Linked DNA regions of Homo sapiens: regions 1 and 2 are each linked to region 3. The links come from fine-mapping of genetic effects on gene expression. A gene starts in region 3. Each other region holds a variant in brackets. All regions are shown on one strand. Distances are between the middles of the regions. Region 1 overlaps GLB1L3 (galactosidase beta 1 like 3). Region 2 overlaps GLB1L2 (galactosidase beta 1 like 2). Region 3 holds the start of THYN1 (thymocyte nuclear protein 1).

What was found. PIP is the estimated chance that this variant, and not a neighbour inherited with it, causes the effect.
Region 1: its variant is fine-mapped to the expression of THYN1 in subcutaneous fat (FUSION, PIP 0.95).
Region 2: its variant is fine-mapped to the expression of THYN1 in sigmoid colon (GTEx, PIP 0.91).

Annotation. Positions count from the first base shown.
Region 1 is chr11:134,299,135-134,309,861 of GRCh38, reverse strand. It overlaps GLB1L3 (galactosidase beta 1 like 3), which reads right to left. Exons shown (of 20, transcript NM_001080407.3): 10 at 2,654-2,738; 11 at 99-236. Among named protein-coding and RNA genes, the nearest start is that of GLB1L2, 27 kb to the left of the region's middle. The variant C/T (reference allele first, on the strand shown) is at 5,646.
Region 2 is chr11:134,345,042-134,355,768 of GRCh38, reverse strand. It overlaps GLB1L2 (galactosidase beta 1 like 2), which reads right to left. Exons shown (of 19, transcript NM_001370461.1): 4 at 10,640-10,727; 5 at 8,336-8,444. Among named protein-coding and RNA genes, the nearest start is that of GLB1L2, 18 kb to the right of the region's middle. RefSeq lists a silencer at 6,082-6,141. The variant G/C (reference allele first, on the strand shown) is at 3,816.
Region 3 is chr11:134,248,264-134,258,990 of GRCh38, reverse strand. THYN1 (thymocyte nuclear protein 1) reads left to right here and starts at 5,639. Exons shown (of 7, transcript NM_014174.3): 1 at 5,639-6,151; 2 at 7,683-7,861; 3 at 8,648-8,716; 4 at 9,071-9,163; 5 at 9,729-9,824; 6 at 10,032-10,182; 7 at 10,507-10,709. The coding sequence starts at 6,109. The coding sequence ends at 10,553. ACAD8 (acyl-CoA dehydrogenase family member 8) reads right to left here and starts at 5,423. Exons shown (of 11, transcript NM_014384.3): 1 at 5,282-5,423; 2 at 2,343-2,443; 3 at 1,734-1,903; 4 at 367-476. The coding sequence starts at 5,390. RefSeq lists an enhancer at 5,509-5,878.

The sequences.
Region 1 (10,727 bases), 51 kb before region 3:
TCAAGAACCCAGTGGTGCCAGAACAGGCTTCCGGAGCCTCCTCTGTAAAGCCCCAGCACCGCCCATGCTGGAGAGGCTACTACACCAGCGACACTTGCCATAGCTGGTGACAATGCCCGAGTGCTTCCCGAAATATGTGGCCCCGTTCATGAAACCAAAGTTGGTTCCACCATGGAACATATATACATTGAAGGAGATCTCATATTTGATGAATTCAGACACAGCATGTTCAACCTCTGCAAAGGGGAACATGAGAACACAGAGAATGTTAGAAATTAAGAGGAGACAGAAGCCTCTGGCAAACTCTTATCCTTTCCAACCCCACTCCACAATCAGTTACAGTAACTCCTCGCTTCACGGCTATATACATTCTTGGGAATGGAGACTTTAAGTAAAATGATATAAAAAAAAAAACAATTTTTCTCTCAATTTTATAATGAAACAATGTTGAAGAAAACAGTATTATATGAGGATATGCTGTACATCATTTTGTTTAGTTTCCAAGAACCTATTGATGACGTTAAAGACCTACTGCAAATGTTTTATCATTCAACCTCTACAAAGATTCCAACAAAAAAATAGGCAGAATTGGCCAGAACTACTCTAGGACACCGAATCTTGTCAATCCCAAGAGATTTTTGAACACTTTTTTTCCAAAATATTGACATAATTTGACTCTAAACTACATCTATTAAATAATAACCTAAGAACCCTCATGTCACTTAAATATCTAATTTTCCTTAAGTTTTTTGAAATCATACATATAATTAGTACACCCTCATTACTACCTTCCAGTGAAATGTTTCTGGGAACACTGACTTGGAAACACCGCCATAGTCCACAAGTGGTTGCTCTTAATCTTTAGCCACAAAACTTCCATTTTGTACTGTGTTTAAACAGCTGCAATCATCTCTCCACTGGCCACAGTGGGAAGAAGAAGGTTAAAAGTCATTTAGAGTGGGAGTCAATTCTGGCTGTGCTCGTTACTATTTGTATGACCTGGGGCAACCTATTTTCTTTCTCAACGCCACTGCTTCCTGATCTGTTAAATGAATGTATTAATTCCAGCTATATCATGGGACTGATGAGAAAATTCATTGATGAGGTAATATATGTGGAAAAAAGGCACAGTGCCTGCCATACAAGAGACCAGAAAAGTTTTATTTGGTAGTGGTGGTGGTGGTGTTGGTGGTGGTGGTGGTGGTGATGATGGTGGTGATGGTGTTGATGGTGATGGTGGTGATAGTGGTGGTGGTGGTGGAGGTGATGGTGATGATGGTGATGGTGATGGTGGTGGTGGTGGTGATGGTGATGGTGATGGTGGTGGTAGTGGTGGTGGACATGGTGGTGGTGGTGGTGGTATTTGGTGGTGATGGTGGTGGTGGTATTTGGTGGTGGTGGTGGTGGTGGTGGTGATGGTGGTGGTGGTGGTGATGGTGATGATGGTGGTGGTGGTGATGGTGATGGTGGTGATGGTGGTGATGGTGGTGGTGGTGGTGGTGGTAGTGGTGATGGTGATGATGGTGATGGTGATGGTGATGGTGGTGGTAGTGGTGGTGGTGGTGGTGGTGGTGGTATTTGGTGGTGGTGGTGGTGGTGGTGGTGGTGATGGTGGTGATGGTGATGGTGGTGGTGGTGATGGTGATGGTGGTGGTGGTAGTGGTGATGGTGATGATGGTGATGGTGGTGGTGCTGGTGGTGGTGTTGGTGATGATGGTGATTGTGGTGGTGATGTGATGATGGTGGTGGTATTGTTGCTGGCATTATTGTTGGTGGTAGTGATGGTATTATTGTTGGTGTTATTGGTGGTAATAGTGGCATTTTTCTTTTGACTTTTTTTCTATTTTTCAACCTAAAACAGGCTTTTCTCAGTTCCCAAGTATTTTTCAATGTTTTTCTATACTTCAGATACAAGTGGCCTTGTTTTCATAACAGCTCTTTCGAAATATCTTCTGTAGACACAAATGCCTATTAAGTAAACGACTGCCAGGCATTGCTCTAAGTGGCAGCACTTGATCCTCACACCAGCCTCATGAGGTTGGTTTTATGATAATCCTCACGTTTGGATGAGGTCACTGAGAATTAAAATGAAGGAAGCCTGCATGAAGCTAGCGCATGGCTAGCGCTGCAGAGCTGAGATTAAAACCTGATCTCTTTGGCTCCAAGATCCATGCTCTTGGCTATCGCTGCATGTTGTCCCCTGACTATTATTAGTGCTTAGTTGACAATGCCATAGAGAGGGCCTATGCACTGCTAGAGATGATTAATGTTCCACCTTCCTCAGAGATGTCACATTTTCAGAGAAGCTTCGGTGACCACCTAACCTTACCTGCGCAGGTCTTTCTTCTGTCTTTTCTATCACTGCACCCTGTTTGTTTGCTTCAAAGTATCCACCAAACATGGAACTACATATTGATTGTTTTACTCTGTAATGATCTGTGGACCTCACTAACTTATACTCTGTTGGGGGTGGGAACCATGTAATTTCTATCCACCAGAGCATCCTCAGGGCCTGGCTGAGTGCTTGTATGTGAAAAGTTGCATGAATATCTACGGCTGATCAAGTGAATCAATTAGCAGAGAACTGTATGAATGAGTTCTCATGGGACCTGGGGCCATCTCTTCCTGGAGTCAAACACTGCAAAACACTCACCCTTTGCATCTTTAACATGGTGCTTATCTCCCCATCTGTCGAACCAGCCGACCCAGTATTCCATAATCAGAAGGGGCTTATCTCTCTAAAAACAAACCAAAGCAAATACTAAGTCTGGCAAAAAACAAAAAAGAAAAATCAGAAAACCTGAATGCAATAGATGGGAACTAAGGAACTCATGCGTTTCTCCTTTTTCCCAATTCAGAGCTTTCCCGTTTTGATCCAGTATTTCTTCCCCCACGGCCCTTGGCCGTCATTCACAGCTCTGGTTCCTCCACTCCTAAACGTCCATGGTCTCCAGCTTCATGTGCCTCCCTACTATACCCGGAAAGCACCATCAGCAATTTCAACCCTGTCTCACCCAAGGCTGGTGTTGAAAGAATGGGTTTTGGATACACGAGGACCTGACCGCAATTCCTTATGTAGAAACTCAGATGCCACAGGCTTTCAGCCTGACACCTGCATTCCACTTGTAGCCTAGCATTTTCAGTGCTGCTGAATAACGTAGATTCTGTTTTTAAAAGGTGACACCTCCTCTACAGTAGGCCTGGCTGTTGCTGTGCCATGGATATTAAAACGGAAGATCATAGCTGAGCTTCTTCTGGGTGATATGTCAGCCACTCAGCATGCATTTTCAGCTGCACTCCTGGAGTCCTCTGGCATGCTGCTGCTCTAAGATTGTCTCACTCTAAGCCCAAAGATCTGTCAACCTAGGACTTTTGTTAGCTGCTCCCTGGATTTGGATTATGATGTTTTCCAGATCCTATGTTCTCTTCTACTTTGGTTTCATTTCTCATTTCCTGCATCCTTCAAACACTTCCATAGAAAAGATGAGTGGAAAATAAATATTCTGAGTCCTTAAATGTCTGGCTATCAACACAATTAATATTTAAAATTATTAATTGGGTATAAAATTCTAAGTTAAAATTCATTTAGCCTCAAATTTTAAAGGCATATGCCATTGCTTCCTATTATCCAATATTTTATAATCCTATGCCATTCTAATTGTTTTTGCTTGGCATGTAAACCTGTGGTTTTTCTCTCTGTAGGATGCTAATTTCACAATTTAGGTCTTTTTCATCACTTACTGTGCTTACTATTTGAGGTACACTTTTCATCTGGACATATAGATACTTCAGTTAAAGGAAATTCTTATGTTATTTGCAATTTCCTTTCCTCCATGCTCTTTGTCCACTCTTTTTGCAACCAGTATTAATAAGATGTTGGGTCTCCTACAATACTCCTATAAGACGTTTATCTTGTCTCTTTTCTGTTTTGTGGGCTTATACTAATAGTAATATTAGGGAATTTGATCATCTTTACCTTCCAACTTCTATATTTAATTTTTAATTTCAAATATTAGATTTTTAATTTCAAAGAGTTGTTTTTGGTTCCCTGATTGTCCCTCTTACTTAACAGCCCACTCTTGTTCAGGTATAATCTTATTCATATCTCTATGCATATTAATAAGCCTTTTTACTACTCTATTTTGTTGCCTGAATTAACTCCATGTTCCCTGATTTCCATTTTCTTCTTTATTTGTAATTTAATTATTTTCTCTTTGTGAAATTTTATTAAATAAATACAGATCCTTAATTTTCCATTTGTATTCAAGAGGAAAGACTGACTTCTGGTGTTAAAATTGTACTGTGGGCTTGACATTCTCCTCCTGGAAATCTTCCAAATCAAAATAAGGACTGAGAAATGGAAACACAAACAACATCCTCTGTGAAGCTAAGAGTCATCTGAAACTTCAAAATATAAATGAGGAGGAAGAAGCGCAAAAGCATTGAAGGTCTATCAGGGGTTCAAAAAACGTAGAGAGAGAATGCTCTTTGTCGAAGATTTTAGGAAAGACTAACAGCACAAATTTCTCCTAAGTAAGAAGCATACTCTATAGTGCAATACCAACCATTTATTATCAGTTACAGAATAGGGTGCACAAGCTGGTGAAGGGAATGCACTTTACATAATTCAGTGCATCAGAAGCTTAGAAGGACAAAATTATGGAAGAATCACAGATAAGAACTATAAGGAGGAAGAAGTTGCTGCTTGTGAGGCATCTGAGAGCAGTCCTGCATCTATACTGGCTCCCTGGGAGGAGAGAAAGCAAAAAGGAAGATGGGTAAAGATAAGAATTCATCCCTGCCTACAGCATTGTGCCACTAAGATACATTGTTATTATGCCACTAAGATACATTGTTAGCGCAGTCGCATGCGGGCTCTCACAGCAACTTCTCTTGAGTCCTTGAGCCAATAAGAACTCATCTCCATCAAAGATGAGTAATAATAAAAAAGAAACAACAATAGAATCTACATTTAAAATTCTAATAAAAAAGAGTTTTTTTCTTTTTCAACAGGGAAAGAAATTAGAGGAGGAACACCAAAAACTTTCTATAGCATAGGTCAAAATTGTGACCCAAAAATATTGTTATAAAGTTAAAAACCCCAATGAAACAATCACCTCTATAAATGGAGAGCATAAAAAGAGAACTAAAAGTACTCAAGGAAGACATGATAAGGAAATATAAGGAGCTAAAATATTACCTAACAAAGATTTTTTTTAAGGCAGATAAAATAGAAAATATTAAGTCCAAACTGGAAGCAGCTAAAAGGAAAATAAACATTGTGAGGGACATGAAAAGAAAAGGAGTGAAAAGTGAGCACAGTTAAAATGAACAGAGAGTAGAAAGAATGAGAAGGAAATGGATGCAGGAGATGTGAAAGTAAGACAGAAGAAGTTTGCATTACACATAACTTGTGTCCCTAAAGAGAATAAACCAAATAAAAAAATTTTTTAACATATTTAAAGATATGATCAAAGACTCACAATTTCCAACAATCATGATCTATGTTATTTGGACGAACCCACTCATTGAGGATTTTTACAAAGTTAAATCAAATACAGTATCACCATAGATACAGCTGAAAAGAGAATTCGTGTATATGAAAATAAATCAGAAGAAAGTATCCAAATAGCAGCATAAGTAGA[C/T]AAAAATGTACAAACTAAAGAGATACCCAGCACATTTGAGAAGGTTTAATGAATTTAGCTGGAATTCCAGGATGAGAGGAGTGAGACAACACAGGAGAAGCAACATTTGAAGAACTACTACCTGGGAACACACACATTCTAGAAGCCCGACAAACTGGAATAATAAATAAAAAGACACTCAGAAAGAGACATAGTTCAACTGCAGAAAACAAAAAAAGAAACAAAAAATTCTTAGTAATAAAGGAGAAAAGAAAGCCTGACAGAAGCCCTCCCCATCACAGCAGTGAAGTCAGCAGACTGTGTGCTGAAAGAAAACTGCCACATTAGAATTCAGAGCCGGGAAGAGACTGAAGCCTGGAAACAGAGAGTCTGCCATAAACAGACATCACTAAAGCATGTACTTCAAGCAGAAGAAAACTGATCCTGAGTAGAATCTCCAAGATATGAAAAATAATAAAAAGCAAAAAGATAAATATTGGGCTAAAACTGAAGGAATATTGATTGTATAAAACAAATACATGATATTTTTAGAGTTTTAAAAAGATAGAAATCAAATACAAGAAAAATCCAGAAGATGCATCTGATGGAGTGGCCAGAGTCAGTGCTTGCCCTGAGGCACTTGTACAATCCAGGCGGAGAGCAGAACTTTAGACTGCAGGGGACTCAGTACTTACATTAAAATTTCAAGGATGACTTTTAAAAGATAAAATCAGACTCTGTAACTCCAGAATGACATAGGAAAAAACAGAAATTGATTTTTTTAAATAGTCGAATCCATAAAAAGAAGCCAAGATTGTAAAGAAAAAGAAAAGAAACACTTAAAAGCAGGCACATAATCAGATGGCAGGTTCAACTTCAGTCTAACAAGAATTACATGAAATATGAATGACTGACAGCTCCAAATAAAAGTTTAATTGTGTCAGACTAAAATAAAAATATTCAACTAATTTCTGATCTCTAATAAGAGAGATGTCTAAAGAAAAATGTAGAATTACAGCAAGATTAAAACCCAAATGAGGATATAGAAAATGATACACATTCAAATATTAATCAGAGAGGTCTGGCATGGCAATATCAATGACAGACAAAAGTGACCTTAAGACAAAAAGCAATACTGCATACAAACAGGATGACTCCCTAGTGATAAAATTTCATGTCCATGAAGATAAAACAAGTCCACATTTACATAGCCTCAAAATACATCAAGCAAACTTTGATAAACTTGCTAAAGGACAGGTAAAATACTAAGGTCTACTGGTAGAAATATGCAAATCTGCAATTATGATAGAAATATTAACACATCTCTTTCAGTGACCAATACAACCAGCCAAAAAAATCAATTGGAAATAGAAAACTAGAATAACACAATAAATAAAATTGACATAGAACTTAAACAGAATACTGCACCCAGTACCGCAAAATACATTCATTACAAACACACAGGGCATTTACCAAAACTGACCATTGATAGGACATAAACACAAACAAAATTAAACATAAAAAATAAAGAATCACACCTAAAAATTGAAAACAAATGAATCTAACTCTACACCAAGTTGGTAAAACAATTACATAAAACAAAGAAAGTATTCCATGTAACCTTAGTACATAGAATTTTCACTACACATTCTCTGTGTGATATACCTTAAAGATAAAAGAAAAACCACAGAAATCTTTAAGATCATTAGATTTTTCTTATTTTCAGTAATATTATCAGTGTTATTTCAAACCTATTATGAATATATTATAGAATTAAGTGAATAACAAAATTGTGAATGTTGTTATCAACTATGATGTCCAAAGTCAGAGAAAAAATAAAAATATAAATCAGAAAAGTTAAATATAACCTCTATAATTCTAAATTTGTATTTTTTAAGAAATCAATGAAACCACAGTTTTCTCCTCGTTTAAAACATGCCAATATCCTGGCCCTACACTCTGAAAATGCTTAGAAGTAACAGCAATTTGATAGTAAGCACAGCTTGTATTCTACAGAAGCAACAGGGTTCTTAGGAGAAATCGCTGTTTCTGGGCTGAGGATTGGAAATGTATCAGGTGAGTCTGGGACATTGTATTTGGCTGGAAACCAAGTAAACTATGAAAGACTGATGGGGTCACGTCAGAGGAGAGAGGAGCCAGGTGGAAGGTGCTGCCAGCAGGCCAGCGAGAAGCCACTTTAAGCTTCAACAACGTAATGATTAAAATTGATAAGAAGGCATTAAACATATTAAAAAGTCATGAATTAATAATCAAAGAAAACAATTTACAAAAGTTTGAAAAGGTACAGAGTATGTTTTCTGACCAGCGAAATAAAGGAAAAAAATAGAAAAACTCCGTATGTCTGAAAATTTAAAAATTAACTTCTAAACATACTCATAGGCCAAAGAAACAATCATATTGAATACTCACACTAGTCTGAATTACAGTATATCAAATATACCAAATATAAAACTCATGAACTAATGAGAAATCCATTCCTTAAATGTTCATAATAAAACATACAGATAAAATGTGAAGGCTAATTACCCACCTCAAGAAATTAGAACAGCAAAATAAACCAAAAATAGTAAAATAAATAAAGGAAATATAAACCTAAGGGTAGAAGCAGTGAAATTGAAATTAATTTGCAATAGAGACAACTTAAAAAAAAATCGGTTCTTTGAAAAGAACCAACATGCTTCTGATGAGAATGTTAAGACAGAGTAAAAACGAATCAATAATTAAGATCAGAAATGAAAAGGAAAGACCAGCACAAATGATACGGCCATTAAAAACAAGAAGATAGTGTGCATAATTATATGCCATTATATTTTAGTTTGAGTGAAATGGACATATTCCTAGAAAAACTGTAACAACTACATTTACTCAGAAGGAAACAGACTTCTGAGTACAGCTCAGAGATATAGCAGTGGGAAAAACATAAATCCCATCCTCACAGCGAGGACAAAACTTGAAAAACTGTAAATTCATGGCTTCTTGGGTCCATCAGAGAACCTAGGTCACAGAGCAACCAAATACCTAAAATCCATGGAAAACCTGATGCCTGCAGGAAGAAGCTGGACCCAAGCCACTTGCTTACCTGGGGCTAGATCCTCTAATATAACACAAATAGATCATATTAAAGAAGTGCTGAAGACAGTGTGGGCCAGCGTGAGAGTCTGAAGTCAAGGGAGCCGAGACGGATGGCGGCTGACACCCTGATGCTGGCTTTAACTCCCCAAGTCTACCAGCTGTTCTGAGGGGAGATTCGGGAGAATCCCGGGCAAGTCTCTGTTGCAGGCTGAATTGCGTCCCCCAGCCAAATTCACACGAAGGCCTAACCCTCAGTACTGCAGAATGTGACTGTACTTGGAGACAGAGCCTTTAAAGAGGTAATTAGGTAAAAGTGAGGCTGTTAGTGTGGGTCTTAATCCCATGTCACCGGGGTCCTCATAAGAAGAGGAAATTTTGACACACCAGGGTCTCGTGTTCACGGCAGAAAGACCATGCGAGGGCACGTTAAGAAGGTGACCATCTGCAAGATAAGGAGAGGCCTCAGAGGAGAACAGCCTGTAGGCGCCTTGATTAAAATGTGGTCAATAGGGGCCGGGCGCGGTGGCTCACGCCTGTAATCCCAGCACTTTGGGAGGCTGAGGCAGGCGGATCATGAGGTCAGGAGATAGAGACCATCCTGGCTAACACGGTGAAACCCCGTCTCTACTAAAAATACAAAAAAAATTAGCCTGGCGTGGTGGAGGGCGCCTGTAGTCCCAGCTACTCGGGAGGCTGAGGCAGGAGAATGGTGTGAACCCAGGAGGTGGAGCTTGCAGTGAGCCGAGTTCACACCACTGCACTCTAGCCTGGGCGACAGAGCAAGACTATGTCTCAAAAAAAAAAAAAAAAAAATGTGGTCAATAGGATGGGCCCTAATCCAATATGTCTGGTGTCCTTATAAGAAGAGGAGATTAGGACACAGACACACACAGAGAAGAGATCATGTGAGGGCACAGGGAGGAGAAGACAGCCGTCCAATAAGCCAGGGAGAGAGGCCTCAGAAGAAACCTACCCTGCCAGCACCTTGATTTCAGACATGTAGTCTCCAGAATGTGGGAAAATAAACATCTGCTGTTTAAGCCACACAGTCTATGGTCCTTTGCTATGGCAACCCTAACAAAGTAACACAGCTTCCTTTCTGGTGCTGGCTGAGGGGAGAGAGCCACCGCCACTGCCAGACCTTCTCCCAGCCCATCTTCTCTAGGGAACAAAAGCCCCAATCAGCTGAGAAACAGCACAGAAGCTGTCACTTAAGGACATCTTAACTGGATAAAATCCATTGCATCTGGGAAAGGGGCAGGGGATGCACTATCCTTGGGAAAGGAGGAACACATGCTAGGATCAGATCTGCCGCTAGAAGAAGAGCTGGGTAGGAGCACCTGCAAAGGCCACACCCCTCAGACCCACAGACAGCATCTGCTGGCAATAAGGCATAATCAGAACATCAGGGGAAGCCTTTCTCCCTCACCAGCAGGCTAACCAAGCTGGAGAAAAAGTAACACATACTATAGCTGAGAGATCCGCAAGCAACAGATTCTCTGTGGGACTCAATGCAAAGGCGAGACTCAGAGGGGAATGCAGACACAGAGAAAACAACCTCTGCCAAACCAGCACTTGCCCTTGACACAAGGTACCACCAGAAACATTTGAAGCCCATGATGCACAAAGGATAACACAGCAACAACAAACCCCACAACCAGCCTAACTCCAGACGAGGGGAACACAAAATCCCACATGGCCTAGCAGAATGAAAGGCAGGCTGATCTCCAAGACAGTATCTATGTCCTATGCATGATGCGCAGTTTTCAATAAAAAATTATGAGACATACAAAAAGGCAAGAAAAGAACACACTTGGAAGAGATAAAGCAATCATCAGAAACAGATAAGACACAGATGTTGTAACTATCTCACAAGGAATTCAAAATAACTATGATTAATATACTTAAGACTATCATGGAAAAGGAAGACAGCATGCAAGATCAGATAGATAATTTTGGCTGAAAGATGAAAACTAAGAAAGAAGCAAATGGAAATACTAGAAATCAAAA
Region 2 (10,727 bases), 97 kb before region 3:
GTTTGGACTTCAGGCTGGAAGCTAAAGATGGCAGCATATGAAAGCTGCCAGAGGACTATAAAGCCTTGGATGCCTGGGGGAAAAGAATTACAGCAAAAGAAAATGAAAAGCATCTAAGGCCACAAGAAGAAGCTGGGGTGAGACTCTGGGAATTAAAGACCCTTGAAAGCGACCAGGGAGGGGAGGTAGGGAGGGAAGCACACACACAGATACAGACAGAACACATGCCCAGAAAATATCAGCTCTTAAGTCTTCATGTTGGGCTGATCTCCGGGCTTAGGGGCCCACTAATTAGTGAGGGTTCCCCTGAAAACATGCAAAAACTGAAATAGGTGTTTGTTTTTTCAAAAGCCCAATGTTCAACCAAAAAAACACAAACATAAAAAGAAACAGGGAAGTATGACTCATCAAAGGAACAAAATAAATCTCCAAAAGCAGTATCTGAAGAAACACACACACCAGACTCAGTAGAGCAAGATCTATAACAGCTGTCGTAAATATGCTCAAGGAGCTAAAGGAAACCAGGCAAATGATATATGAAGAAAAAGAGAATATCAACAAAGAAACAGAGATTATTTTTAAAAGAACCAAAGGAACTTCTGGGGCTGAAATATACCATATATAAATTGAAAAATTCACTAGAGGAGTTCAACGGCAGATTCAAACAGGTAGAAGAAAGAAAAGCAAACTTAAACACAGGTTATCAGAAATGATCAGGTCTGAGGAGATAAAAGAATAAAGAAAAGTGAACAGAGCCTAAGGGGCTTACACAACATCTTCAAGCAGAATAATATATGAATTATGGGTTTCTTAGAAGAAAAAGAGAGATAAAAGGGCAGGGAGATTATTTTTACAAAATAATAGCTGAAAACTTCTCCAATTTGAGGAAAGACAAGATTATATAAATCTAAGGAGCTCAAAAAATTCCAGAGAACCACTCAGGGACACTCTATAATCAAACCATTGAAGACAAAGAGAGATTCTTGAATGCCAGAAAAAGTTTTGGTCACAGGCAAGGGATCCTCAATAAGACTATAAAGGATATCTCAGCCAGAAAATTTTCAGGCCAGAAGGCAATGAGATGATATAGTCAAAGTGCTGAAAGGAAAAAGTGTCAACTTTTTTTTTGACACTTCTATATCCAGCAAAACTCAAAAATGAGGGAAAAATTAAGAAATTCCCAAAGTAAAGCTAAGAGAGTTCATTACCACTAGACCTTCCCTAGAAAAAAAACACCTAAAGTTGAAATGAAAAAATGCTAGAGAGTAATTTGAAGCTATATGAAAATATAAAGTTCTCCAGCAAAGATAGACACATAAAAAATATAAAAATATTATTATAATTTTTCTTTACAATGTGGCTTTTTATTTTCTACAAGATTTTAAAAGACATAAAATAATTATAAATTTAAGTTAATGGGTACACCCAATATGAAGACATAATTTGTGACATCAATAAAATAAAGTGGAAGGGCAGAACTGTAAAGGAGTTTTTGTGTGCAGTTGAAGTTAGGTTGGTATCAATTTAAAACAGAATGTCACAACTTTAGGATATTATATATCCTTTACCTTATCCCAAGGTAAAGGGAATCGTTATAAAAAAGTGTCACTATAAAAAAATCAACTAGATACAAAGTAAAGCAGTCATAAAGGAAATGAGGGACAAAAAGCTGTAAGACATACAGAAAGCAACAAAATGGCAAAAGCAAGTGATTCTCTATCAGTAATTACTTTGAATGTAAACACATTAAACTCCCCAATCAAAAGACATACATTGGCAGAATGGATTTTTAACAAACCGATATCCAACTATATACTATCTACAAGACACTCACTTCAGATCTAAGGATATTTATTGGTTGGAAGTGAAAGGCTGGAAAAAGATATTTTATGCAAACAGTAATCAAAAGAGGAGGGGTGGCTTTGCTAATATCAAACAAAATAGACTTTATATCAAAAACTGTTACAAGAGACAAAGACATGATAAAATATATATAATGATAAAAGGGTCAATTCACCAAAAGGATATAACAATTATAAACATATATGCACCAAATGCCAGAATTCCAAAGTATATGAGCCAAACAGTGGCAAAATTAAAGGGAAAAATAGACAATAATAGTAGGAGACTCAATATCTGAATATCAATAATGGATAGAGTAACCAGACAGAAAATTAGTAACCAAATAGAGGACCTAGACAATATTATGGACCAGTTGGACCAAACATATATATACACAACATTCCACCCAAAAGTAGCACAATACACATTTTTCTCATGGGCACATAAAACACTCTCCAGGATAAACCATATAGTAAGCCAAAAAAACAAGCCTTAATAAATTTTTCTTTTTTAAAAAAAAACAGAGTCTTGCTCTGTCACCCAGGCTGGAGTGCAGTGGCACAATCTTGGCTCACTGCAACCTCCATCTCCCAGGTTCAAGTGATTCTTGTGCCTCAGCCTCCCAAGTAGCTGGGATTACAGGTGCCCGTCACCACACCTGGCTAATTTTTGTATTTTTTAGTAGAGAATGGGTTTCAACATGTTGGCCAAGCTGGTCTCTAACTCCCGACCTCAAGTGTTCCACTTGCCTCGGCCTCCCAAAGTGCTAGGATTACAGGCATGAGCCACCACACCCAGCCTCAAGCTTTAATAAATTTAAAAAATTGAAATCTTACAAAGTTTTATTTTTCCCAATCACAATGGAATGAAACTAGAAATCAATAACCAAAAAAGTCCTGAAAAATTCAAGTATGTGGAAATAAAATCTTCACCAATAGTCCAAAGAGGAAATCACAAGAGACATTAGAAAATATATTGAGGCCAGGCGCAGTGGCTCACGCCTGTAATCCCAGCACTTTGGGAGGCCAAGGCGGGCGGATCACCTGAGATAGGGAGTTCAAGACCAGCCCGGCCAACAAGGGGAAACCCCGTCTCTACTAAAAATACAAATATCAGCCGGGCGTGGTCACGGGCACCTGTAATCCCAGCTACTTGGGAGGGTGAGTAATGAGAATCACTTGAACCTGGGAGGCGGACGTTGTAGTGAGCTGAGATCATGCCACTGCACTCCTGCCTGGGCGACAAGAGCGAGACTCCATCTCAAAAAAAAAAAAAAAGAAGACATATTGAGAAAAATGAAAATGGAAATAAAATTATGAATTACAGTGAAAGCAGTGCAAAGAGGGAAATTTTATAGCTATAAATACATTTAAAAGACAAAAGGTCTCAAACCAACAACTTAACTTTATACCTTAAGAAACCAGAAAAAGGGAAACAAACTAAAAGGTAGCAGAAGTAAGGAAATAATAAAGATTAGAGCAGAGATAGACAATGAGAGAATAGAAAAACAATAAAGAAAAATTAATGAAACCAAGAGTTGGTTATTTGAAAAGATCAACAAAACTGACAAACTGCAGCTAAACTAAGAAAAAAGATATGACTCAACTAAAATCAGAAACAACATGAGGCTATTACTGCTGATTTTACAGAAATAAAAACGATTACAGAAGAGGAATATGAACAAATTGTACGCCAACAAATTAAATATTAAATAACCTAGATGAAACACACAAATTCCTAGAAATATATAATATGCCAAAACTAAATCATGAAGAAATATAAAATCTGAACAGACCTATAACTAGTAAGGACACTGAATCAGTAACTAAAAACCTCCCAACAAAGAAAAGTCCAGGACCAGATGGCTTCACTGGTAAATTCTACCAAATATTTAAAGAAAAATTAACGCCAGTCTTCCTCAAACCCTTCCCAAAAATTGAAAGGGAAGGAACACTTCCTACCTTATTCTATAA[G/C]GTAGAATACAGTAATAAACTCTTTTCACTTTTCTTTGGGAATTTCTTAATTTTTCCCTCATTTTTGAGTTTTGCTGGATATAGAAGTGTCAAAAAAAGTTGACACTTTTTTCTTTTATTACAAACAAAAGACACTATGAGAAAAGAAAACACGGACTAACAGTCCTGATGAATACTGATGCCAAAACCCTCAACAACATGTTAGCCAACTTAATTCAGCAGCATATTAAAAGAATTATAAACCATGATCAAATGGGATTCATTCCTGTAATGCGAGGATGATTTGCCATGTGAAAAGCAATCAATGTAGGCCAGGCATGGTGGCTCATGCCTATAATCCCAGCACTTTGGGAGGCTGAGGCAGGTGGATCACCTGAGGTCAGAAGTTTGAGACCAGCCTGATCAACAGGGTAAAACCCCATCTCTACTGAAAATACAAAATTAGCTGGGCATGGTGGCAGGTGCTTGTAACCCCAGCTATTCAGGAGGCTGAGGCAGGAGAATCACTTGAACCTGGGAGGAGGAGGTTGCAGTGAGCTGAGATAGCGCCATTGCTCTCCAGCCTGAGCAACAAGAGGGAACCACCATCTCAAAAAAAAAAAAAAAAAGAAAGAAAAAGAATCAATCAATGTAATATACCGCATTAACAAAATTAAGAGGAAAAACCACATGATGATCCCAATTGATGCAGAAAAAAGTGATAAAATTCAACATTCTTTCATGATAAAAAACACTCAGTCAACTAGGAACAGAAGGAAACTACCTCAACATAGTAAAGGCCCCATACAGAAAGCCCACAGTCAACATCATATTCACTGGTGAAAGACTGAAAACTTTTCCTCTACGATCAGGAACAAACCAAGCATTCGTGCTTTCAGCACTTCTATTCAACACGGTACTGGAAGTCCTGCCAGAGCAATTAGTCAAGAAAAAAATAAAGGCAACCAAGTTGGAAAGGAAGAAGTTATCTCTGTTCACAGACAACATGATCTTAAATGCAGAAAACAGTGCACATCCCCACACCCCTAAAAAAAACTATCTAGCTAATAATTCAGTAAGCTTGCAGGATAAAAAAAATCAATGTGCAAAAATGCATTGTTTTTATCCACCATCAGGGGACAATTCCATTTACGACACCATCAAAAACAACAAAATACTTGGGAATACATTTAATCAAGGAGGTGAAATATTTGTACACTGATTGTACATTACAAACAAAATACTAAAAGAAAATAAAAGACAGTGGAGCAAGATGGAGGAATAGAAGGCTGCACCGTTCATCCGTCCTGCTGGAACACGAAATTTTAACAGTGATCTGCACGCAGAAAAGCACCATGACAAAAACCGAAACTCAAGTGACCCGTCACAGTACCTGGTTTTAACTTCATATCACCAAAAGACGCATTAAGGCAGGCAAGAGAGACAGCCTTACACCACCGATGCCACCCTCTCCCATCTCCCAGCGGCAGCCAAGTGGTGAGGAGAGAGGATCTGTGCATTTGGGGAAGGGAGAGCACAGTGACTGGGGAACTTTACATTGAACTCAGTGCTGCCTTGTCACAGCACAGGATAAAGCCATGCTGAGCTCAGCCAGCATCCACGTAGACGGAGCATTTGGACCAGCCCTAGCCAGAGAGGAACTGCCCACCCTAGTGATTGGAACTTGAGTTTCTTGGGAAGCCTCACCACCATGGGCTGAAGTGCTCTGGAGTCCTAGGTAAACATGAAAGGCAGTCTAGGACACAAAGACCGCAATTCCTATGCAACTCCTGGAGCTAGGATGAGCTTACAGCCAGTGTACTAGCACAGCGCATGGCCTAAGGAGCCACCAGCTGGCATGGCTAAGGGAGTTCTTGCACATCCCTCCCCCAAGCCCAGGTAGCGCAGCTCACAGCAACGAAAGTGGCTCCTTCCTTCTGCTTAAGGAGAGGAGAGCAAAGAGTAAAGAGGACTTTGTCTTGCATCTTGGATCCAGCTCAACCACAGTAGGAAAGGGCGCCGGCAGAGTCAAGAGGCCCTCGTTCCAGGCCCTAGCTTCCAGACACTTCTAGACATACCCTGAGCCAAAAGGGAACCTGCTGCCTTGAAGCGAAGGACCCAGTCCTGGCAGGTCCTGTTAAGGAATTGATCTCCAGAAAGTAAAAAGAATTCCTATAATCAACAACATAAAAACAAACAACTAGATTCAAAAATGAGCAGAAGACTTGAATAAACATTTCTTCCAAGATATGCAAAAGACCAATCAGCACATGAAAGATGCTCAACATCACCAGGGAAATGCAAATCAAAACCACCATGAGATACCACTTCACACCCACTGATGGCTCTCCCCAGATAAACAGGAAATAACAAGTGTTGGCAAGGATGTGGGGAAATTGCAAAGCTTGTGTATTGCTGGTGGGAATGTAATTTGGTGCAACTTCTGTGGAAAACGGTATGGCAATTCCTAAAAAAAACTGAATGTAGAATGACAAGTTGATCCAGCAATTTCACTTCTAGGTATATACCCAAAAGAAGCGAAAGCAGGGGCTCAGAAAGGTATTTGTACACCCATGCTCACAGCAGCTTTATTTACAGTGGCCAAAAGGCAGAAGCAACTCAAACGTTCGTCAATGGATGAAGGATAAACAAACGTGTTATATACATGCAATGGAACATAATTCAGTCTTAAAAAGGAAGGAAATTCTGACACAGGCTATGACACAGATGAACCTTGAGGGCGCTGTTAAGTGAAATAATCCAGTCACAATACTATGTGATTTCACTTATATTTGGTAGCTAAAATGATCAAATGCATGGAGACAGAGAGTAGAATGGCTGTCAGGAGCTGAGAGAGGGAAGAATGGAGGGTTTAACGGCACAGAGTTTACATTGGGGAAGACAGAAAAGGACTGGAGATAGACAGTGGTTGCAATAGACTGTGTTCTCCCAAAATTTACATGTTGAAATCCTAACCCCCACTGTGACGGTATTCAGAGGTGGGACTTTTGGGTGGTGATTAGTTATGAGCATAGAGTCCTTGCCAACAGGGCTAGTGCTCTTATAAGAGGGACCTCAGGGAGCTCTCTGACGCTCTCTGCCATGTAAGGTTGCATCAAGAAGATGGCCGTATATGCCCTGGAAGGGGGCCCTTCCAGACACCGAATCTGCCAGTGCTTTGTTCTTGGACTTCCCACTCTCCAAAACTGGGAGAAATGAATTTCTTTGTCTGTAAGCCACTCAGTCTAGGTGTTTGGTTGTGGCAGCCTGAACTAAGGCTGTGGAGATGAGCACACAACAGTGTGGGTGGACTCAATGCCGCTGAGCTGTACATTTCAAAATGGTTAAAATGGCAAAGTTTATGTTATGTATACTATCCCATAGTCACAAAAATTAAATAACTATGTGATTATTTAAATATGTTAAATAATAATAATTATGTTATCGTTTATTTCAAAAAGATGCATTGGTGACCCGCTGCACGTCTGCAAGTGCCTCTGAGCCTGCTCCCAGGACGGCCATCCTGCTGCCCACCCGACTCCTACAACCTGCTGATCCCCAGCTTCCCAGCAAGATCTAGGCTAATGACTTCCTAGTTCCTTGCTTCTGTCATGGTTAAGGCTGCCGGATTTAGTAAACAAAAATACCAGACATAAAGTTAAATTTGAATTCACAACAAATAATTTTTTAGTGTAAGTATGACCCATGCAATATTTGGAATATATTTACACTAAAAAATTATTCCTTGCTTATCTGAAACTCAAATATAACTGAGCATCCTGTGTTTCATCTGGCAGTTCCCTTTGATTTATGTGTGTGGTGAGTATTCCATACCACTGACTTGAACTAATTTTTTATTGATGTACTAATTTCTCAATGCCGTTCTTTCTGGTTTTACACAGCAACTGGGTTGATTTTTCCCATTCCTGCTTTCCAAAGCTTCCAATTATTATATAAAATATTAAGGTACTTCCTCCCCCAAAACGTACTTTAACGCATGTTTTGAATAGTAAGTGTGTACCATGCAGCACCTTTTTGGTAGCAGAGGGAAGTATCTCGTAAAGTCAGCGAAAGGAATTTTATAATTTATAAAAAGTCCTGCAGTCTTATAGGCAAAGGTTAATCCACATGTGCTCCACCCTGTGCAAAACTGAGCCGCAGTGCTACTGGGACACTGGTAGATAGATGGGTGTTCCCGGCTATCACCTCATCCCTGTCTCTGTGGAACCATGGAGATGCCAGTGGATGCGTGTTCCCGGCTATCACAGCATCCCTGTCTCTCCAGTGCTGTATGTGGCAATGTGAGCCCTTACATCTGTCTGTCCTTTCAGTAACGCACCCAAGTGAGACAACACTGAAATGCACAGATCTTTCCAAAGACAACTCTTGCAAGCCCCTCAGTTACGAGTCTCGGACGGTGAGGAAGAGCCTGCTCGTGTGTTCAAAACACTGGAGGACCCTTGGTCTGAGAACTAACCAAGGATGATCCACGACCTAGAGGAAGACAGACCAAGATCAAAGAAGACCCCATTTGCTTGTACCTGGAGTGGCACCACCCTGGACATCAGGTGGTCAAAATAAAGGTCCACTGCTTCGGTGAAGCCCTTGTAAGTTGTCCTCAGCCTCATGCCAGGGTCTTGGAGTAGCCAGCTTGAAGTGTAAACGGGGGAAAGGAAGGATGTTAGTGTCACAGTGGGTTTGCTGTGAGCAGGCTGTTGATGCGTGAGAAGGGAGAGGCCCCCCAGTGCTCCAGAATGACCTGTGCCCTCCTCCACCCCACTGAGCCCAGAAGTGGGGAGACAATGCAAACCGATTCTGGGGCGAGCACCCACCCGCACTCCTGCAGCTTCCCTCCCCAAGGACACAGCCTGGTGGAAGTTCATTTCCAGCTCCACAGCTACAGGGCCTGGCTGCCAGCAGTGAGAAAAGCTTTTCACAGGACTCCAGGCCTAGTTTTCAACAACTTGCTCTGTGATCCCATTTCAAAAAGTGAAGTCAAAAGGGTTAGGAATCACTGAGGCTGTGGAAGGAGGAGACACAACCTTCTAGCGTCACCCCAAAAAACAAGCCTGACAGAGACTGCGAGGGGCTGAGCAGGAGGCAGTCCCCATCCTTGCCAACGTGGCTAACGCCTTGGCATCAGTGGCGCACAGCCCAGAGCAGCAGGTGAGCAAGAGTTGAATTCTCCCTCCACCCTGTTGCTATGATCCCAAACTCCCCAGAGGAACACAGCAGCGTGGATTGGTTCCAAAGCTGGAGTCAGGGCTCTTCCTTCTCACTTCAGGTTCTGAGAAGACACATATTTTCTAACAAAAGGCTCTGAGGCTCCTCTTGCCCTGGTCTGGAAGTCCTAAACAGGGTCAGGAAATTATCCCATTTCTGTGGGTCAAACAAGGGGTGAGGAGAGAGCAGTTTCCTCCAGACCGACACCCCCACATTCTAACCCCACCTGACAGGTTAGCCTTCTCACTCACGCCCGGACGCCCCCTCCGCAGGTGTGCCCACATGCCCCTCTCATGCATGGCCAGGTGCCACATGGGCGGGGTGAGAAGGGGGAGTCTGAGTGCCACAGCTCCCCACTGCTTCTAAGTTAAGACTGTTAAACCCTTCGTCCTCCTGTGCCCGGCCCCGGCTGAGCCGAGGAAATCGCTGACGGTGGCACACAGCTTTCTAATCCACAGGGATGGGAGAGGCTGCCCTGGCTGTGTTCGTGACTAGGGTGAGCCTACCAGGCTGGATGGATCAGTGCCTGAGAAGTGGCCCTGGGTAGTGGAGACAGAAGCTATGCCCCCGAGGGAAGGGCGGGTCATGCTGGAAACCAGGAGGAAAAGAAGCCCAGGGCTCCCCAGGGACCAGGGGAGGGGAGACGGCTTGGGGACAAGGATCAGCCTCTTCCCTGAGGCAGTCTGGGTCTAACCACCTGGTACACTGGGAGGCTGAGAAAGGTTACACCAGTTAACAAGAAAATCTTAAAGGCCACAATGTTGAGGATGAGGAATGAATGAAGTCCCAGCTGATTCCTGTCCAGATTTCCACTCCAACCACAGAACACCAAACTCAGCCAAGACTAGCACTGGGAAGATGACACACGTGGGCCGAGATAGGAAGACAAAACCATAACAAGAATTTGTTTCTCTTATACTTTATCAAAATACTTGGACTTTTCAAAATATGCTTGGTAACATTCCTAAGAAAGAGATAGGGAAGGCCGGGCGCGGTGGCTCATGCCTGTAATCCCAGCACTTTGGGAGGCCGAGGTGGGCAGATCACAAGGTCAGGAGTTCCAGACCAGCCTAGCCAACATGGTGAAACCCTGTCTTTACTAAAAATACAAAAATTAGCTGCGCGTGGTGGCACACACCTGTAACCCTAGCTACTCGGGAGGCTGAGGCAGGAGAATCGCTTGAACCCGGGAGGCGGAGGTTGCAGTAAGCCAAGATCACACCACTGCACTCCAGCCTGAGTGCCAGAGCAAGACTCTGTCTCAAAAAAAAGAAACAGACAGGGAAGGTCGGATTTTTCCCATACTGCAGACACGCAGGTGAATGACCTGCCAGGACTCACAGCTCCACAGCAGAGTCCTGAAGCATGAGATGCCAGGAGGGCCAGCCCTGCTGCTGCCTGTCACACAAGCAGCCCATGCATGGCTACGTGAGGGCACTCACTGCAGCATCACTGAAAGCGATCCCCTCTGGGTGCTGCTTTTCCTGAAAAGGAAATTCAGTACAGAATGGGAACTGGAACACAATTCAGTACAGAATGGGAACTGGAACACAGAAACAAACCAGACCTATGTCTGTGAGCTTTTTGCCACAGCACACAGGACCCTTCACAACCCCGCTTACCTGGGCAAGCCCCCGAGGTCCATCTCACTGCAGATGTAGGGGCCTGGACGCAGAATCACCCACAGCCCGATCTCTGCGGCCATCAGGA
Region 3 (10,727 bases):
GGCAGCAGAGAGAAGGTGAGAAAGTCAGTGAGGTCGAGGGAGCCCAGCACAATTCTATCTTCTAGGAAATCTTCTCTAAACAGACCCTGCTCAGAGTGTGTCACTGCAAAACCCAAGTGGCCAAAGGAACTCTCTGTACTTGGTGGAAACTGCTCATACCAGTCAGGCCACTGCCTACCTCCCAACACACCAGATAGGCTTCTTGGTCCTTGTGACATCAGGTCACAGGACTCTATTACTCCTCAACCAAACAGCTAGATAAACAGTGGCTCGACATGTCAAGAGGCTGGAAGGAGTGCTCGGTAATGCCATCTGAGCAGGAAGCATCTCTCCCTGCTATATCTCAGTGCAGTGTGGCAAATTCACCTGGTTCAGTGAGGCAGTAGGAAGCAAACTTCTCCATGGTACAGAGCGGTGGGCAAAATTTGTGCCTCTGTTCCTCATTTCCGAAGCTATCAATCATCCAGGCACACATGCTGATAGGTACACCAAGAAGAAAAGACAATGACAGAAATAAAGATGGAAAAGAAAAAAAAATGGGGGAGAAGGGGAAAGAGAACAAAGGGCAGGGCAGTGGAGTAAAGCAGAAGAGTGGGAAGGGGAGAGTCACAATTGGGAAGACTCTTTAAAGGCAAACGGTGGATTAAAACATATTCCTGGAATAAGGACTACCCAGAGATAACCAGGCTGAGGTACTTCTCACCAGCACGTTTGTACTACTTCTAGTTAGGTTACACGAGCCTCTAAAAATCAGAGTTATATGTGCTTTCTATTAGTAGTTTCTATTACTTCCTCAAATCACTGGCAGTTCCATCTTTGGATTGAGGAAAAGGGTGAGAGGGGCCGGGTGCGGTGGCTCACATCTGTAATCCCAGCACTATGGGAGGCCGAGGCAGGCAGAACACAAGGTCAGGAGTTTGAGACCAGCCTGACTAACATGGTGAAACCCCATCTCTACTAAATATGAAAAAAAATTAGCCAGGTGTGGTGGCACGTGCCTGTAATCCCAGCTACTCAGGAGGCTGAGGCAGGAGAATCACTTGAACCGGGGAGACGGAGGTTGCAGTGAGCCGAGGTCATGCCACTGCACCCTAGCCTGGGCAACAGAGCGAGACTCTGTCTTAAAAATAAATAAATAAATAAAAGGGTGAGAGGACCCTGATCACTCTATTGGAGAAGTCTCCTGGTACCAGCTCAAAATAAGATTTCTGAGAAAGCTGGCTGACCTGATTCCCTAAGCAATACACAGGATGACAGAATCAAGTCCAACAGGCAGCAACAGACCTAGCGTGTACTTATTTTATTTATTTATTTTTTTTGAGATGGAGTCTCGCTCTGTCGCCCAGGCTGGAGTGCAGTGGTCCATCTCGGCTCACTGCAAGCTCCGCCTCCCGGGTTCACACCATCCTCCTGCCTCAGCCTCCCGAGTAGCTGGGACTACAGGCGCCAGCCACCACACCCGGCTAATTTTTTGTATTTTTAGCAGGGACGGGGTTTCACCACGTTGGCCAGGCTGGTCTCAAACTCCTGACCTCGTGATCTGCCTGCCTTGGCCTCCCAAAGTGCTGGGATTACAGGCACGAGCCACTGCGCCCGGCCCCTAGAGTGTACTTTTAAGTCCAGTTCCTTGAGGACACTCAGCTTCAAAAGATCAATCTTTTTCCTACGAATCTGAACTCTCACAGTCAGCCCGAGTGAGCACTTCATTGTGCCTTCCAAGCTTGGGCACTCACTTGTGGATGCTTATATAGGCTGTGGTGCTGGTGCAGCCTGTAGCCAAGGCTTCAAAAATGACAGAGGTATCAAGACGTGACAGCCCAGACCCGCCCACATCTGTTTGTATGTAGACCCCTCCGAAGCCTAGCTGGGCTGCCTTCCGCATCACATCCACTGGGAACAGCTCCTATGTACAAAAGAGAGCAGGGTGATCAGCAGCTGATTCAGAGACGGCCTTCCTTTTAGAGGGCACAGTGAGGGATTAGGAGGCTTGCACATGCGACAGCGTATGAATTCTCTTAATATGCCTGTTTGTCATCTTACAGTGGTTATCAGTTAACATGGGTCCTGTAAAAACTTGTTCTGGCATTAAGAAGTTTCTTTTTATTATCTATAGAACTGCCTTAGTTTTATATCCAAATCTTTATTCAACTAACAAAAAAAAAGTTATGTACAAGATGATCAGGATGCCTTCTAGGAAAAATCATCCACTACCGGTATTCTCACTTGCAGTAAGAGTTGGTAAGTGGAGGAGACATTTAACAATTACATTATCAGGAGACAAAGATAAAGGTCTGCCTGAGACATCTGTTGTTAGAACGTCTAAGCACAAGAAAAACGCCTACCTTCTGGTCCCACTCTGCCATATTTGGAGCCATCTCTCGGGCAGCAAAGTCAAAGGCCACTTTTTGAAATTCTTTCTGCTCTTCATTAAGTCCCATGGAAGCTGTGGGCAGGATTGCATATACTGTTCTAGGACAGGGTCAGTGTTGCCAACAAGGTGTTGCCAACAAGAAGCACCACGAAGTTGTGAAAGTGGATCTACTGTAGTATTTCCCATACACGGTATAGCCTTTAACAGCTAGAGAATGGCAGCTTCTGTCGTTATTCCACTTGTCATATGGAGAAAGGACAGTTCTAGCACACATCCAGATCAACCTAGAACAGGATAGGGGACTTCCAGACATCTCTTATCCTAGCACTTAGTAAAATGCAGTTGTAGACCTAGAGGTTGAGGCCACAGTGCTAGAACTTTGGTCATTATAACTGACACTGAAGAGCACTATGGGCTGGGCGTGATGGTTCACGCCTATAATCCCAGCACTTCAGGAGGCCGAGGCGGGCAGATCACCTGAGGTCAGGAGCTCAAGACCAGCCTGACCAACATGGAAAAACCCCGCCTCTACTAAAAATACAAAAATTAGCTGGGTGTGGTGGCGCATGCCTGTAATCCCAGCTACTTTGGGAGGGTGAGACAGGAGAATCGCTTGAACCCAGGAGGCAGAGGTTGCAGTGAGCTGAGATTGTGCCATTGCACTCTAGCCTGGGTGACAGAGCAAGACTCTGTTTCAAAAGAAGAAAAAAAGAAAAAAGAGCACTATGGGAAGACTATGGCGCCACACTTGGCAATAATTTACTTCAGTGCCTACAAGCGATGCAGTCCTCACAGAAGAACACAAGGGCAGGTGCCAGAGTCTGTTCCTTGGGGCAAATCTGGGCATCAGTAATGGCTGGCTATGCGAGCCTGGAGAGGGCACTGCTTTCTGTGATCAGTACTCTCATTAAAATGGGAAAGTCAGAAATGAAGAGTTCTGAGGATTAACGATTAGGCTGCCTTGAGAAACTCAGAGCAGAAACCTATGTTGGGTATTACCCTCAGGAACAGAGTTAGGGATAAACAATTCATGGTTCTCTGACTGGGGTCAGGCCATTTATTCACACAATTTTGTACAAGGGTTGCTGTTACTGTAGACCATGGCTCAAAGATCATTTCCAAAAGAATGTTTATTGGGTGTTTACTAGGTAGCAGTGCTGGGGTTACAAAAATAAATATGATCCAGCCAGGCGCAGTGGCTCATGCCTGTAATCCCAGACTTTGGGGAGGCCAAGGCAGGTGGATCACTTGAGGTCAGGAGTTCAAGTCCAGCTTGTCCAACATGGTGAAACCCCGTCTCTACTAAAAATATAAAAATTAGCTGGGCATGGTGGCATGTGCTGTAATCCCAGCTACTTGGGAGGCTGAGGCACAAGAATTGCTTGAACCCGTGGGGCAGAGGTTGCGGTGAGTTGAGATCGCACCACTGTACTCCAGCCTGGGCAACAGAAAGAGACTCCATCTCAAAAAAATAAATAAATAAGATCCATTCACACAAAGGATGACTATTTCAATCCTAGCAAGAGCTCATTAAATGTTAACAAATCTTCTTCTTCTGTAAATGGCTACTTCCTAAAACAAATAGTTCAAGGAACCACAGGCTTAAGAAATAAATCTGAGTTGCATTCTAATGGAAGGAAATAGTTTTATGCAAATCATATGCATAAGTAAACACAAGTTCCCAGAAGGAAATACAGTATAAAAACAAAACAAATACCACCACTCATGAACTTTGCCAGTTACTAGCAGAGTTCAAGATGCCAATACATAGTTACTAGCAGAGCTCAAGATGCCAATACATATACACTAAAAAGGTAAAGCTAAATAGAAAAACACTCCAAATGAAATGGGAAAAGCCTTTGACTGCAGAGCCACTCAAGTGTAAGCAAGATGCAAACAATAACAAAACCCACCTCTAAATAATTCCTTATCTGCTTCGGTATCAACCAGGGTAATCTGGGTTATCAAATTCTAAGCGCTAGGCCAGGGCAGCACCTCTTGAATGAGTTTTAGGACATTCAGAAGAAAACAGTATTCTATGCCTTACTGTACTTTATAGATCTGATATCTAAGGGACTTATTCTGTTGTAAAGAAAACTGCCATTTATTTAAAATAAATTTAAAAATATTTCAGAAGAAAAAAGTGTTTATAAACATTCTTGGCAGAGAAGTCACAAACTGGCCGGGTCTCCACCACTCCTCGCTACATTCAAATTACTGTTCAGAGCCTAAAGACACTCAAGTTTGTCAGCTCTGGTAGAGTTTCCCACTGGCAATAATAATTATTTTTCCTGCATGAGTTTCAACACTAAAAGTGTCTTATAGCCAGAGGTGTTAAGATACCAAATCTTTGTGTGTGAGCAAATCTTGTATGACCTGGAGTTCTTGTGCAGTTGTCACCATCAGCACCCAGCCAGCTTCTTATATTCTCACTGCTTTTATGACCTACTGTTATGATTAAAAACCAACCAACCCAACAACAACCAAGCCCCAAGTTTCTTCACTTCTCTAAGCATCCGAGGGTGACCGGCCGCAGGAGGACCCGGGCCGGAGGGGAACCTGCGGGGGGATGACCGGCCGGAGGGGAACCTGCGGGGGGTGACCGGCCGGAGGAGGACCGGGGCGGGGGTGACCGGCCGGAGGAGGACCGGGGCGGGGGTGACCGGCCGGAGGAGGACCCGGGCAGGGGTGACGGGCCAGATGGGGACCCGGATGGTGGTGACCGACCGGAGGGGGCAGCCAGGCCGGGGGTGACCGGCCGGAGTAGGGAGCCAGGCCGGGGGGGTGACTGGCCGGAAGGGGAGCTGACGCCGGGGTGACTGGATGGAACGGGGAGACTGCAGCCCCTCGCGGACATATGTCCGCCGGGGTTCTGGACACCTGTCCTACTGCCCGCCAGGAGATCCTTACGGTCGATGCAGGAGGTCAAGCTCCGGTGGCCGGTCTGGACGAGGACCCGGAGACCGCCGGGCAGGCAGCCGAGGCGCGCCCCGAAACGCCGGCAGCCGCTCCACAGCATAGCCGCCGCAGCTCCGCGTTCAGCTAAGAGTCTGAACGCCTTCGACCTCCGTTGCGCTCGCACTGGCGGGACCTGCGACCCGGCAACGCCTGTCCCACTGCACCCTGGGGGTTGTAGTCCTCCCACGAGCCCTAACAACCCAGGTGCCAGGCGGGCTCCCAAGGGGACAGGACTACAATTCCCAGAAGTCCTCGGGGCCTCGGCGCCGCAGAGATGCACCGCCCACCAAGCGCCGCGGGGGTCGCGCTGCACAGCCTGCGGCGCAGCGGAGGCGGACCGCAGTCGAGTCTGCAGAGTGTTGGGTCTGTAGCCAGCAAATTACTTCATCATCTAGATTATCCATTCAGTTGATCCTAATTAGCAAGGATAACAAGGTAACACAAGGCTTACTTATATTCACCCAACAAAAGTGTCTCTGTGGAGCCACTTCCCAGTGAACTACATACTGAGATAGGGGTTCCTGGATGAGAAGGACCAAGGACAGAACCGAGAAGAGTTTAGGGGCAGGTTATGCGAGATGGAAATGGCGCAGATAACGGAGGGAAGGATTTGAGGGCTCAAACGTAGGCGTCTGTGTTTCGCAAAAGTTGGAGACGTTCTAGGCTGCCTCTCGTTGCCTCCATCTCGCTCTGCGCGGGTTTTGGAGGACATTAGCATTCTTTCTTGTATCTCCGTTGATTCCAGAATCGTCCGCACTAAAGTCCCCTGCAGCGTGACCATGTCGAGACCCCGGAAGAGGCTGGCTGGGACTTCTGGTTCAGGTGAGCTGCCCCTAGGCTGCACAAAGGCAGCCCAAGAAAAAACTTTTCTCGAAGAGCCTGTTTAGTACTCATTTTTCACTCCCTGCTTTTTGAGAACCCTTTGTGATATTTTTACTCCATTATCCTTAATCACTCTCCATCTTCTTTACTTGTCTCACCAAGCTCCTACCTACAGTTCCTTTTTCTTGTTTATTCAGGCAATGGTTGTTGTGCACAAAGACTCTTTGAGATACCAGGTGGCGTGCTAAAGAATATAAAGCGCCTGCTTGCGGGTGAACTGCAAACAGATGTGATGGGGTTCAGGAAAATGGATTGTTAAGTTTATGGAGGGAGGAATCACGGGGAAGGCCTCGAGAAGGATGTGGAATTTGAGCCCAGCCTTGAAGAATGGGAGACTTTCCACGGGCAAAGTTTAGTACTAAGAAAACGTGATGTCGTTTTTATAATCACAAAGATGGATGGCATTCTAAGTGGATGGAGGAGGAGGAACATTGGAAGGTACAGAAAGTACCTCTTTTGGGAATGACAGGGGTTCCAGATATACTACAGCACATTGCAGTTATTTATCAATATGTGGTGTTTGCAGTGGGCCTGTTAACTCCTAAGGGGCCATTAGGAAACTAGGTTAGGAAGGTATGCTGGGTTCAGAGCATTAGACAGCCATAAATGGTATTTAATGACAATTGATGTAGGGACTTTGACTAAATTCAGAGGCAGTATAGTCATTAAGTAGCTTCAGATAGACCTCAGTGACAGGTGCTGACCTCATATCTTGATTCCACCATTACTGGATGTGTGATCTGGAGCATGCTTCCCAGATGAAGAGTAGAACATCTCACAGGTTATGTAGATTAACCGAGTTAGGGTTAGGGTAACACATAGACCTTGGGCCCTGTCATATAGTAATTTAACAACTTAGCTACTGAATGCCTACTGTGTTCCAGGCACATTCTGATTGTCTTGGGATGAAATCGAATCATCACCATTTTTCTACAATGTCCTGAATGAACTGTTTCTTTCAACTTTTATTGGCACCTTCAAGGAGCAGAAAGGAGATGGGCCAGGAGCCACAGTGAGCAAGAAGGAAAGACGTATGAGATGAGAATAATAATGCTTTTATTATGCACTTATTGTAATGCCAGGCATTGTCTAGGCCCTTTGTATTACCTCATTTAAGCTTCAAAATAGTTGCAAGTAGGTGCTCAGTTTCCTCTTTCCTATGCAAAGGCATAGAAGAGAGAGTGAGGAAAGGAAAACATGTATTGACTACTGTCCGGACCTTTAATCCTGAACAACCCTGTAAGGTGTTCTTACCCTATTGAATAGATAATCCAGAAGATACCCTGTAAGGTAGGTATTCTTGTCTAATTTTTATAGATAAGGAAAGCTTCTTAACAGTAAGATTAAGTTCCTACAGCTGGTAATGGATCCATGATTTGAATCCAGGTCTGACTCCAAAGCTAAGCTTTTTCCATTATGAAACATTGCCTTTAACAAGCATGATCTTTTCTTTTTGCTTCTCCTATTGCAGACAAGGGACTATCAGGAAAACGCACCAAAACTGAGAACTCAGGTGAGGCATTAGCTAAAGTGGAGGACTCCAACCCTCAGAAGACTTCAGCCACTAAAAACTGTTTGAAGAATCTAAGCAGCCACTGGCTGATGAAGTCAGAGCCAGAGAGCCGCCTAGAGAAAGGTGTAGATGTGAAGGTGAGACCCTTGACCTGTCTCCAGTCCCTTCATGGTGTTTTTTAAATGAGAAGTGAATATGGGACACCATAGGGTTCCATCCCCAGCTTCTTATCTTTGAAGGGAAGGAAAAAGGTAAAAATGAATAAAATCGGCAGGGTTTATTATCATCAGCTGGTTTGTGAACCTGTGTATCTAGGGCAGGGGTTGGCTAACCTTTGCCACAAAGGGCCAGATAGTAAATTTTGTAGGCTTGTGCGTGTTACAGTCTCTGTTGCAACCCTGCCCTTGTAGCAAGAGAGTGGCCACAGATAATAAGTAAACAGCTGTGGCTGTGTTCAAGTTCAACTTTATTCACAAAATCCAGCATGGGGTTAGATTTGTCCTGAAGGCTATAGTCTGCCAACCTCAATCTTAGGTTACCTTTCTCTGAACACCTGCCATGCTCCTAGGTGTCTCCCTGCCAACAGTTGATGTATATTTCAGGGAATTTAATATAGCCTGGGAAAAATATAAGCAGAACTATTATAAATATAAAGTAAAATGCAAGTAACTAGCAGATTACTTTATCACCTAGATTATTCATTCAGCTAATCCTCATAATTAGCAAGGATAACAAGGTAACACAAGGCTTACTTACATTCACCCAGCAAAAGTGTCTCTGTGGAGCCACTTCCCGGTGAACTACATACTTCCTCTATAGCCAGTGGCCCCTCTCATTTTAGGGGAAGGAACTGTCTGCTTCCATATGTGCTTACTAACTGGCCAAGGATTGTTTAATGATTGAATTTATTTCCTCTTGCCTAGTTCAGCATTGAGGATCTCAAAGCACAGCCCAAACAGACAACATGCTGGGATGGTGTTCGTAACTACCAGGTAAGAGGGTAAGGAGGAGGTCGCCTGAGACCCAGGTGGGATGAATGCCTGCCTCCTCCTCATGACGTACTCAGTAGCAGAACCTCTTGGCCAAGGTTGCTTTTTCTCAGAAGCAAACCTGATAATGTATTAAAAAATGCCTTAAGTACTCTGCATGAAATTTTCAATTGGCCTGTGTTCTGGCCAATGTCCTGGTAAAAGTCTGGGTGTCCTGGCAAAGGGGAAGGACTTTCTAATGAATTGAGGAGTTGCAGACAAGAATCACCCATCTATTAAAAGCAGACTTGATTTCTGCTAAAAGCTAGTACTTTCCAGCTGGTGGGAGGATAGTTACTCTTTCTTCTCCCGGGACAGGCTCGGAACTTCCTTAGAGCCATGAAGCTGGGAGAAGAAGCCTTCTTCTACCATAGCAACTGCAAAGAGCCAGGCATCGCAGGACTCATGAAGGTTAGTTGGGCAGGTTTTGGTGTGAATCCCTTTTCCTCCAGGGAGACTAACTTAAGTAGATATAAAGGGATATACCTTAATTAGGCAACAAAAAAGTACACTCCCCCCCACCCCATCCCCCTTTTACAGGAATAGGGAAAAACTGCCCTGGCCCCTTCCTATCTGATAACTCAAAGCAGGCCTTCATTCAGGTCCGACTAGCACAGACTTCACTCCACCTCTAAGTCTTGATCTCACTCGAAAACAGGCCTGATGATAGCTCCTCCAAGCTTATCAGGATAAAATTATTAACTGTGCAGAGGGGAAAAAAACAGTGGTACCAGTAATAACCTTTGCCATTTGTTTTTAGAGCATGTTTTTAAGACTTTTGTAAAAACAGAGTTGATTTCCTAGTCTATATATTAGACTATATATTGTTTCCAAATATCTGAGCCCCCATTGGCTGTACAGCAAGGCAGATGGGTTAAGAATGTGCAGGGAAGAAATGAAAGTTGGATATGGATTAAAAGATTGGCTGTGGAGCTGACTGCAGGCAGATGATTCAAAGCTTTTGTTTTGGTTTCAGATCGTGAAAGAGGCTTACCCAGACCACACACAGTTTGAGAAAAACAATCCCCATTATGACCCATCTAGCAAAGAGGACAACCCTAAGTGGTCCATGGTAAAGACTATGCTTTCTATTTCATGACAGGGGAAGGATGAACCAGGGGAAGAAGACGGTTGGGGTGACTGTAGGTCAAGGTACACGGCCCAGCACTTACTCAGATGAGGTGATACTGAGATAGGAGCTTCCTGTGGGCGGTTAAAAATACAGTGGGCACAGTCAGCCTAGACACGTCTTTCTGTCATGTACACTGTTGTCACATAGGTGGATGTACAGTTTGTTCGGATGATGAAACGTTTCATTCCCCTGGCTGAGCTCAAATCCTATCATCAAGCTCACAAAGCTACTGGTGGCCCCTTAAAAAATATGGTTCTCTTCACTCGCCAGAGATTATCAATCCAGCCCCTGACCCAGGGTAAGAGTGGGCCCTCTCCTTTATTGTCCATATACCAGAATGACCTCATGAATTCCCACTTACTAGCTGATTAAACTTGGGCATGGTACTTCACCTTTCTCAGTCAGCATCCTCACCTGTAACACCCATGAGGGAGGGAATGTGGCCAGAGTTACCTGTTACTATTACCCAGTACTCTATAGTGCTTGGCACCTGGTAAATAGTTTTGAACGAATGACTGCTCGCCTTAGTACCATGTAAGATGTACCTGTGCCTGGCACAACTTTCCTGTTCAAGAGGGGACATTAAAAACTAATCCTTCCTTTTTCCCTTTTTTTTTTGTAGAAGAGTTTGATTTTGTTTTGAGCCTGGAGGAAAAGGAACCAAGTTAACTGAGATACTGCTGCTGGAATGGGCGAGACATTGCTGCAAAGAAGTCAAGCTTTTTTCAGACAAAAGGTGTGAGGGGGCTTGCTTGGTATGCTTACCTGGGCTTGTGTACCTCAGTGGTTTTTGTGTACTTTTTTCAATAAAATATCAAAGTTGAAGAACTTTTCTTCTAAAAC